Regions from separate parts of the Homo sapiens genome. Here region 2 is linked to region 1. The links come from fine-mapping of genetic effects on gene expression. A gene starts in region 1. The other region holds a variant in brackets. All regions are shown on one strand. Distances are between the middles of the regions. Region 1 holds the start of HIPK1 (homeodomain interacting protein kinase 1). Region 2 overlaps HIPK1 (homeodomain interacting protein kinase 1).

The links.
Region 2: its variant is fine-mapped to the expression of HIPK1 in whole blood (TOPMed, PIP above 0.99).

The regions. Positions count from the first base shown.
Region 1 is chr1:113,926,258-113,931,638 of GRCh38, reverse strand. It overlaps HIPK1 (homeodomain interacting protein kinase 1), which reads right to left and starts at 2,315. Exons shown (of 16, transcript NM_198268.3): 1 at 2,107-2,315. It overlaps HIPK1-AS1 (HIPK1 antisense RNA 1), which reads left to right and starts at 2,114. Exons shown (of 3, transcript NR_110726.1): 1 at 2,114-2,277; 2 at 3,251-3,395. RefSeq lists silencers at 1,585-1,894, 1,915-1,964 and an enhancer at 2,085-2,404.
Region 2 is chr1:113,969,957-113,975,337 of GRCh38, reverse strand. It overlaps HIPK1 (homeodomain interacting protein kinase 1), which reads right to left. Exons shown (of 16, transcript NM_198268.3): 14 at 5,141-5,381; 15 at 3,384-3,514; 16 at 1-2,314. The coding sequence ends at 1,826. Among named protein-coding and RNA genes, the nearest start is that of OLFML3, 6.8 kb to the left of the region's middle. The variant C/T (reference allele first, on the strand shown) is at 2,243.

The sequences.
Region 1 (5,381 bases):
TTTTAGAAGGAAGTTCTGGTTTGGTTTGAAGTCTCAAGTTACCAACGAACTTGCTCAAAAAACCACAAAACTACAGTGTCGAGAGATAAACTATTCATGAAGGTATCACCAGCAAAAGTTCTACTTGCCAACCAGAGCCAGTATATTTATAAGATCTCATTCACCATTTTATTCTAAGATACTTTACTGGCTTGGCTGCCTCCAGTTCCAACCGCAAGTACTTTACTAAAATATCTTTCAAGCCAGGAACAGTATCTTAAAGTCAATGCCACCCTTCATCATAACAGTATTATAACACAGAACCCTGAGATAATTACATGTAAAGATCCAAAATCACCAGCTGAATAATGAAAATTAGGTCAAATGATTTGTTAGATTTTAAAATGTTTTATAGAAAGCTTTAGGCTTCCATATGAAAAAAGCTAGTAATAGTTTGCATTCTCTATAATCTTACAAAAAAAAAAAAAAAACCCACAGACCAGAGATCAAAAATAGCTTTACACAAACAAAAGGAAAATTGTAGGTTTGCTGAGGGCATCAGCCACTTAATTTAACCCTATTTCATCAAGAGCGGGAAGCCACACTGCTGTTTTCACCAGTTACTAAGAAACAAGATAAAGGACAGATTGGGACAGAGAGTCTATAGCTGAAAGTATTATGTTGATGCAATTACTGAGAATTCCCAAAGTGTCACTAATAGACAAGAAAGAGCATCTAGGACTGCCTCTAAATGAGTCTACCTACAACAGAATCAGTGATTAAGTAAAGAAAAGACTTACTGGAGCTTGGGGGTTTTCCCCCCCTCTTCCCTACCCGCATCCTCCCATCCTGAACCCCCCTCCCCAAGTAGGAAAGAAAGCTCGCCCAGCATAAACACAGGCCATTGCTCACAGCTCGTCACCACAACAAACTGGAGGTTAGACCAACGCTCCTGGAGACGGAACTCCACGTCTTGGTTGCTAAGCACAAAAAGGGGACTCTTCCCCACAGACCTGTGAACAGTGTGGGCCTTACCAGAATTTTGGTTGTTTCTCCACCTTCCCCCTCCCTTTTGTTTTTTTAACGAAAGCTTTGAAAGTGGTGGCAGCAAAAGTTTCCCTTTGGGCCAGACCTCTAGATCTCCCTTGTACAGATATACATTAGGTGGGCTGGTCTCACGTAGTCTCCACCGTCATTACGAATTACAAGCCTAACGACTACAGAACATCAGCGGAGACGACAGAAAAGCTTCCACACCCACCCCACTGTCGTCCTCTCCAGGCACGGCTTCCTGGTCCCAAACAGCACAAATAACCCAAAACCATGGTGATAAGCGGAGCTGTGAAGTACACACGCACAAGCCACACACTGGGAACCTGCCACGACAGCCGGGGAAAAAACCGGCCGAGTGAGGAGACGCAAGGCGGTCCCCTGTCACTTAAGGACAACACGCCCAGGCGAGAAGTGGCAGGAGGCAGGGGGAGTTGCCCCGAAAACCAGCCCGGAGCCTCCCCACCTTCCTGGGAAGGCAATCCCCTCAGCGGCAGTGAGCGGCCGGGCCGCAAGACGCGGCGCCCGGTCCCAGGCAGGGGCCCTTTGAGGAAGGCGCCCCCGGCAGGCTGGGCGCTCCAGGAGAGCCGGCGGCCGGCCCGGCCCCGCCTCAGGGAGCTGAGGGGAAGTCGCTCCCCGCCGAGGACCCCTCCTGCCCGTCCCCACTCACCGCCGGTGTGTCTGGTTCTCAGCCGCGAGCTGGGGCTGCCGTGAGGAGGCGGCGGAGGAGACGAGATCTGGGGCCCCGCAGCCGGGTCATCATACCCCCCGCGCGAGCCGGCCCGGGCCCCGGCCCCCGCCCCCCGGAGCCGTCCCCGCGCCCGTCCCGCAGGGGGAGCCTCCTCAGCCTCCCTCCCGCTCCACCACCCAGCCCCTTCCCGCCGCCGCCGCCGCCGCCTCAGCCCCGCGCGCTCCCGCCTCGGCCTCCTGCTGCCGTCCGGGGCTACCGCCGGGCCCCTTGCTCCGCAGCCGCCGTTGTCGCCAGACCCGACGAACGGAATGCCGAGCGGCCGTCCCTCAACCCGGCCGGCCCCGCCTCGCCGGAACTATTCACCCGCCCCGCGCCATGACACCTACTGAGGCGGAAGTGCAGCTGAATGGACTCTCTAGGACGATCGCATAGTACTGATTGCAGTAGGAGTCGGTGGGCCTCGAGTAGGTGGGCCTCCGTAGGGAGCCAGCGTGGATCGAGTGCGGGGCCTGGACTTCCCGCCCCCTCCGCACTGCAGACTCTGCGGTGATTTAAAGGTGCCTGGCGGTGGTACGGGATCCAACTGTAAAATGTCATCCCAGCTAGTGTGACATCACCACAGTTTAGTGTGACACCCCCAGAGCTTGGGCAGTGTACGGGACGACAGTGCCTAGCAGAGGAGCTTCACTGCCGGTGAGGGATTACCTCAGGTTAGGCTTTAATGTTTCGTTGCCGTCTAGAGACGTTCTAGCAATGTGACATCTGTGTACCATATCTGGAAGTCTCCCTGTACGTCAAGAGCCCCTTAGGGGAGTCTCCCATTGCCGCCGTGGGAACCTGTGTTTACATTACGAGGAGAGAGAATAGCTGTACTCTGAACTCAAACGCTCAAAACATGCAGTGAGCGAATGCTAGCATAATTTTCTTGCCTCTACCAGAAGGAAGGCTGGGTATTTAGGAAACAGAACGCGTTGGGCACAACATTCTGAGAAAATGGACACAGAAAATTAGGTTATCCTAATAGAAAAGCAGTTGCATCTCCCAAAGTCAAGAGATTCTGTAGGACTTCCGATGTATCTCCTGCTGTGTAAAATATTCAGGTTCCTGAAGTGGGGGACATTTTTAGGGCAACTGTAATTTCTTCATTTTTTCCATCCCACAAGTGCTGGAGGCAGCAGTGATCTGAGCTCTAGAAAGTGACTGTCCGTCACCATCGGTATTTGCATATACTCTGTGAGGAGAAGGGCAGTTGTGGCTAAGACAAAATTCTACTATCAAGTTTTGTTTCTCAAATCTCACTCATTAACATCTTTGATTTCCTTGGATCCCCATAACACACACAGAAAACTATGATTTGTGTAAAATGCGCTGAAGTACCTTTTAAGGGAAGTCATTTGGCTTTCTCTCTGGCTTAACAACACGGGGAGCAGTTCCATTTTATCTGGAACAGGGAAGTTTATTTCCCTAGAGAACTAGGGTTACCAAAAATGTTCGATCCCACAAGGCAGTTTTGTTTGCATATTTTCACAGAAACTTCCTTCTACTACTTAAAGTCCTCACATTGGGCTGACCTGGGAAACATGAAGATAAAAAGAGTGGGTAAACATGCCTGCTTGATGAGCCAGAAAAAAAGGCAGAAACCTGTGGTCTGGGTAGAACAGATCCTGCTCAGAATGTAAGCTTCAAACATGTTTATCATGCCTTGGTTCAACCTAACTCTCTGACATGTTCCTAAACTCCTGCTCTCTCAAGTTATGTCCCTTTCCTCTTTTCAAATATCTCTCAGAATTCACCCTTTCGGGAACCTTTGCTGATTGACTCCTATTTTATTTGAATTCTGCATCATCATCTGATTACTTAAATTAACCTGTACCTTCTTTATTTATACTTGTTAACTTCTATTTTCATTGCTCTTAGGTCCTCAGTCTTTCTCACTATACGGAGAGCTTCTTAAAGTCTGTATTTTCTCCTCTTTAGTATCATTCACTCATTCATCCAGCAAACTGCTTGTGTGCCTGCTCTGTGCTATACACTCTTCTAGACACTGGGTCAGGTATGAATGAGACAGGTGAATAAAGCATGGTCTTTTCCCTCAGGGACCTTACAGTCTAATGAGGAAAAAACGTGTGCAGACATATATAAGATAAGTGAGAGAGTCGGAGAAGAACATCAGAAGTGATATTTGAGCATAGTAAGGTCAAAGAAGTTTCAAAGTTTAGTCATTTGTCCATTCAGTAACTATTTATAGAGCATCTTCTGTGTGCTAGGCACTATATAAGAAATTAAGGGGCTGGGTGTGGTGGCTCATGCCTGTAATCCCAGCACTTCGGGAGGCTGAGGCAGGTGAATCACCTGAGGTCAGGAGTTCGAGACCAGCCTGGCCAACATGGTGAAACCCCGTCTCTACTAAAAATACAAACATTAGCCAAGTGTAGTGGCGCATGCCTGTAATCCCAGCTACCCTGGAGGCTTAAGCAGAAGAACCGCTGGAACCCAGGAGAAGAAGGCTACCATGAGCCGAGATTGCACCATTGCACTCCAGCCTGGGCGACAGTGAGACTCTGTCTCAAAAAAAAAAAAAAGAAAGAAAGAAAGAAATAAAAAAAAAAGAAATTAAGGATACACAGAAGAAAAGGCATGGTCTGTGCCCTGAAGGAGCTTACAGTTAAGCAGAGAAGTTGCACGATTTGGAAGTAGTAAGGTAAATTGAGTCAGATTTTGAAAGGCAATGTAGAGCTGTTAGAAGTTTATTCGCACAGGTAGCCAGGCACAGTGGCTCATGCCTGTAATCCCAGCACTTTGGGAAGCCAAGGTGGCAGATCACTGGAGGTCAGGAGTTCAAGACCAGCCTGGCCAACACAGTGAAACCCCATCTCTACTACAAATACAAAAATTAGCCAGATATGGTGGCATATGCTTGTAATCCCAGCTACTCGGGAGGCTGAGGCAGGAGAATCGCTTGAATCCGGGAGGCAGAGGTTGCAGTGAGCCGAGATCGTGCCACTGCAGTCTAGGCTGGGCAAACAGAGCCAGACTCTGTCTCAAAAAAGAAGTTTATTCAGACAGGTAATGTGAGAGAGAACTAGTGATGGTGAAGGAAGAGGGCTAGCTGGAGTGGGTAAAGACTGGAGAAAGGGATCCTAATCAGAAAACTATGATGAGGGTTTGATTACACAGGAAAGAAGGCGAGAAGGGGCAGATATGTGAAATACATCCTCCTAAACCAAGTCAGAGCAACTGGAGAGGGAGGTGGAGCAGTTAGCAATCGGAAGCATTCAAGTTTCATTCAGGGTATGACATCCTTCTAGGGCCTACAGCCTAGATTCAGTGTTGCAGGCAAGAAGTCATTTGCCCAAGAGCGGCAGTGCTTAAGGCCAAATAGGAGAAGCTGATGAGAAGGCTGTGTCTTGAGAGAAGCTGAACCAAAAAGCTAGGCAAACTATTCAAACAAATAGTGAATCCTAGGGGCTAGGAAAAAAAAGAGAATTTAAATAGAAGCCAACAGGTTGTGAAACTGGGAAAACCAGATTAGAGTGAAGGTCTGCAGTAAACGATAAAAAGCAGAAAAGTCCCTTGAGCCAACAGGAGGAGAACCTCAATGATTTTTTAAAAATCCAGACCCCAGAATACTTTTTATTTGGAAATAATGTTAAACATACAG
Region 2 (5,381 bases), 44 kb before region 1:
GTGGTGGTAAAGGAGAAAAGCTGCTGTTTTTATTTTTCAATGTTGGCAGGGAAACTGAGAACAATGCATTACACAATACAGCTACTAATCCTGTTCTGATAAATCCCGGTGAACAACTTAGGGTCCACGGGGGCTTGCTGGTCCATCCTAAGGCAAGCTCACTGTAAACTCTATTAACCACTACATTATCATATAAGGCACTACAATAAGGGAAGGAGGAAGAAAGGGAAGGAAGAGACACACACTGAAAAACTCCTCACCAGACACACCTGTGCAAAACAATTCCAAGGGTCTCCTCTCCTTGCAGGCAATGCCCCTGCTCATTCAGCACTACAGTAATATGCTCTAATATAATTGCAATTAGTTCACATACATTCCAACAAGTATCAGTTCATTTTGGTTTAAATACAATGGAGACATCAATCCATCTCCGGGATAACACTGGAGGATCACATACACACTAAGTACACAATTCAAGTGTAATCACTACACATTTGATTACAAATAACATTTTGGGTTAGCAGGAAAAATTGCTTGTTATATTTTTCTAATCAATATGTACATATTTAATTATGTAAAATATTAAAACACCACCATTACAAAACTTCTAAAATATTTTTAAATTCAGTAATAAATTTTTAAAATATTTTTTGCAATTCCTACATGCACTTATTATATAAGTCTTAATAAGAGAGCATTCAATTTGCTGCTGGCATACAAAGGAAGCTACTTTGAAGTATAAAAGCTATACACAAGAAATGTTCTTATCTGGTTTCAGGTTTTTTTAGCTTTCTCCCCAAACAAATCACATAAAACAGAAGGGAGAGATGAGCAAAACAGAGGTGTATTACTGAAAATTCATACTAATCTTTAGGCAAAGCTCATCAATGCCAGTATCTCATAATAGACAGAGATTTTGCATATAATAAAACCACCACCACCATGTAATAATAACCACCTTAATGGCTTTTTCGATAAAAAAATTTAAGCTGAATCAGAGAGAGAAAGACTTTTAAAAAATAATTTAAAAAAGAATTCATGGTGCTTCATTTAAAAAGAATACTTGGTGTTTTCACGCAGATATGGATTCTCTCACATTAAGTTACCAGCAAATGGTGAGCTGCCTTTTAAACACTACTTTATAACAAACACAGGAGCAATTGAGAGAATCTCAATAGTAACACAGAGTAATACGTAACCAGTTTTGCAAAAATAACAATTGCCCATTAAGTATAATATGACATTAAAACAAAACTGAAACTCTGTAAGTTTAAATGTCCAATAAACAAAAGGGAGATTGTGTAAGCCGCTTTTAAAATAAAATAGGCAAGTCTGAGTTTATAAACAAACAAAAAGTAATTTTTCTTTTTTTGTCATCAGATTTCAACTCCTTCTATCAGCATTTTTCCTGACCAGCAATCACAATAACACAAAATGAAATAAAGAGGGGCTTCACTTGTTTTTAAAAGCATTTATAGAAATCAAGTCAGAGAGACAAAATATTTTTCAGAGGGTAACTTCAGAACAATCTCTCTTCCTTGGTAACTGCAGAAGATGGGCATCTGAACTCTTCCAAGTACCAAAATTACTGTCACAAAAATAATGAATTTAAAAATAGGGCAAACTTTGGGAAGACTACAACAATGCAGTCAACACTGAGACAGGTTCCCCCAGAGAAAAACCTTCTGCTTCAGTGGGCCCCTGCAGAACAAGTTGCTGGCTAAGAAATTTCAAGAGGGTAAAGGAGGATCTCTCCATAGCCCAATATTAAGAACGCAGGGCCAGGAGAAGGTAGCCATGATTCCTCCTCCCTCATGCTCACCAACTATAAGTAGGAATACTGGCTGATCTTGGTAGGACTCAGCGGGTATCCAGTGTAAATTGTTGAGCCTCGGGAAGACCCAATGTAGGATTGGGTGGCAAACTGGTGTTGGTACTGAGCAGGGGCCACGCTGGCAGAAGTGAGGAGGCTGGGCCCAACACTGACAGGGACCTGGTGCACCAAAGTGCTAGGGTGAGTGGTATAGGCTGCAGCATGCCTTGAGGAACCCTGTGGGGAGAAAAGATGAGCAATGGAGCTGGTTGAGCCCAGTGCAGCAGCAGAAGTCGGGGCAGCATACGTATACAGATGAGCCTGGCTTGGCAGGTGAGCAGGGGCCGGGGCAAGGTGTGGGTGCCCTGTCGAGTGTAGCGGGCTGCCATGCTGGAAGGTGTAGGGGGCTTGGGAGAGAGGGGCCACAAA[C/T]GCCTGCTGCCTGCGGGGGGCTGGGTTGCTGCTTCTCTCCTGTGAGGTTGGAGCCGCCGATGACTGCTGGTTCTGGAAGAAAGAAGGAAGAAGTGAGGAATCCTGAGGTCACTCCAGCTCAGGGCACCAAAGGCCAAGTTAAGAGCTCAGGTTCTGACTTGTACTGTTTTCGAATGGGTATAGCACATAATCTCCCACACTGGCATTGAATGCTGTCAGAAATCAGCCACCCCTCCTTCTGCCTCTTAGCAAGATAGATCCTAATCTGGCTCAGGTAACAGCATTTTGCTTGTAAGTATGACAGGAAGAGGGAGAATCAAGAGATCATAGGGTTCCCCACTCCTGCAAGTTAATAACTGGTGACTCAACTCACCCTATTCTGGCGTCAGTAAATTTGAATTTTTCCTAGCCTTTATTTCTTACCATTGCTTTCTTTTGTTTTCGTCCTCTAAGTTCTTCATACCCCTCTTGAAATGTGGAAACTAAAATACATGCACTAACTCAAACTTACATTTTCACTTGCATGTGCTCTCTCTCACATACCCTCATACTGACACTTTCTCACTACTGGTGGACATCATACAAGCACTCGAATTTTAGCTTCTAAGAGTGAACACAAATAGAATAAAGTAATGAGAGAAGCAGAAGGGTAGGTTGGGGCTGGGGGTGTTCGGAGAGTGGGGAAGTCCCAAATCGCAGACTCCAGCAACAAGTAGGACCTAGAACCAGTTGAATTTGGTGGCCAATGAGCTTTTCACAATCTCTTGACTCAAGTAAACAATGTAAGGATCAGCTTACTTATGGCCTGGGGGATAAAGAGAATCTGGTCTCAAAGCATATGCCTATCACAGACATGGTTAAAGCACCCCAGGCTCTTTCTAAATCCCAGACGTTTCTCTAACCTTCCAGGGTAGACTTAGGGAGGTCTGATGGAAAACCTAGAATGTACATCCTGAACACACTTACAGAGTGAATGAAGAGACACAGCATATGCGGTACGACGTAAGCCATAGAACACAAAATTGTTTGACACAAAAGGGGCTTCATTTGGCTTTATTCAGCATCCAGCCAGAAGCAGGGTTCTCCAGAAAGTAACAACAGTGCAGGGCCCAAACAGAAGGCAGTAGCCCATAGCACTTACCTGGCTAAGATTGAGTGGTTGTGCTGCACTGGTCCCCCCGCGTTGAGCTCGATACCCTGTGGGGGTGATACAGCATCCAGATGACTGCCCACTCACTGAAGCGACTGGCTTAGTCTTATTGCTCAGGAGACCTAAAAAAGCACCAGGCTTAATAGTTATGAGTAGACATCACTGAGCTAACCTCAGATGGCATCATATTAATTAGTCCACATCTGTATGTAGTTTGCAAGCATTAAGGTCTCAATTCTATTTACATCAGAAGAAAATAACCTGTTATCACCCATTTCTTTTCTGTCTTGGCACAAATCTCCACATAGGATCCTCAAAATGTTCACTTAAATAAATATTATAAATATTTTAACTATAATCTCTTGTTATATACAAGGAACGACTGGAAATACAAATATGCTAAGACACCATCCCTCTCTCCAAGAGTTTATAGTTTTATGTAGGAAGGGATTAAACAAGCACAGAAATGATAATGTGAAGCTGAGAAAGCTATTGGTAATTCTTAGGATATTAAAGTGGCAAGAGGGTTTAAAAGAAGGCAAAATTCTATCTTGTTGGACACTTACTGTCTTCAAATTCTTAGAAATTACAGGACAGCTGAATGTGAAATTTTGCTTGCTTCTGTGTTCCCATTAGGAAAACCAGAGCATTTATTCAGTGTCTCATGTGATAGCCTATATTCTCTGGACCCAAGAGCACACGGAGGTACTAATAATTCTATTCAGTAGCCTGGCATCAGGAAGCTCTCTCTCTTGTCTGCAATGGGACAACTGTCTACTTCTGAAAAGAATCACACAGAGGCATAACACAATACCCTCAAATTACAACCCTGTTTATGTCTATGGCAGTAAGATAATACATAATAAAACATAATTTATACAAGTATGGCCCAGGTTTATGTTGACACCTAAACTTCACCAACCCCTTCCTTGGTATGAAGTTGTCACTGAAAAGCAGCTGCCTTAACAAGACTACATTGCCTGGGCTCACTTGCATCTAGGTGGGGCCATGTGAGAAGCATTCACTATTTCCACTTATTTCCAGCCTAAAGAGGTTAAGACATGTGTGTGCCTCCTTCACACTTTCTTTCTCCTTCTGACTGGATGCTCAGGAATCAAACACTTGTACCAAGAAATTATATGAGAGAGAAGTAAAATTCTACTATGTTATGCTACAAAAATCTAGGATTTGTTACTGCAACTGCTATTACCCAACTAACACAATAACTAAACCAGGGAGCTTAAGTCCAGTATCTAACAGGGCAAAGATGATGGAAGTAATTGGGTTGGTAATAAAACCATCAAAAGCATCACTGCTATGACACTGGGTGAGAAAAAAATCTAAAGAATATAACTGTTTTCCAAAACACTTTTGCAGTCATTTTCAATATTATCAAGTCCTGTCTACATCTCAATTGCCAAATTCAAATCATCTGTGGCAAACCTAATTGCCTGCTAATTCTTCTTGCAATATCACACGTCTTGTCTGCTTTCTCCCATCAGCACTGAATGTGTTTCTGAGACTACAATCTCATTTGTATATTAATCCAAGCAAAATAAACACAGGAAGATAAAGTGATGGCCAAAAATAATTTCACATTGTGCAGGGAACTGATTTCTGAATTAAGGTCTCTTTAAGAATGTCTACACCACTGGTCTCTACCACTGATATAAGTGGATTATGGCAAAATATTTAAGCATTCACACATCAAAGGAGAATTCAACTCAAGCTGTGAAGATAACACTGACCTGAGGCCTGGGTTGCTACAGTGCAGTCACCAAGCTGAGTTTTCAGTGGAGGCACAATGATAGTGCGGGTGCCAGTGCCATCTGCCACAACTCTGCCAGGCCCCTCCAAAACGGATCCACTATTGCCTCGGAGAGCACTCAGGGTATCAGTGGAATAAGGGCTGCTCAAAGAAGAGTCAGAGTCTGGAGAATCATTGACAGTGACATAACTGATGACATTAGACCTTGGCTTCAGTCCAGA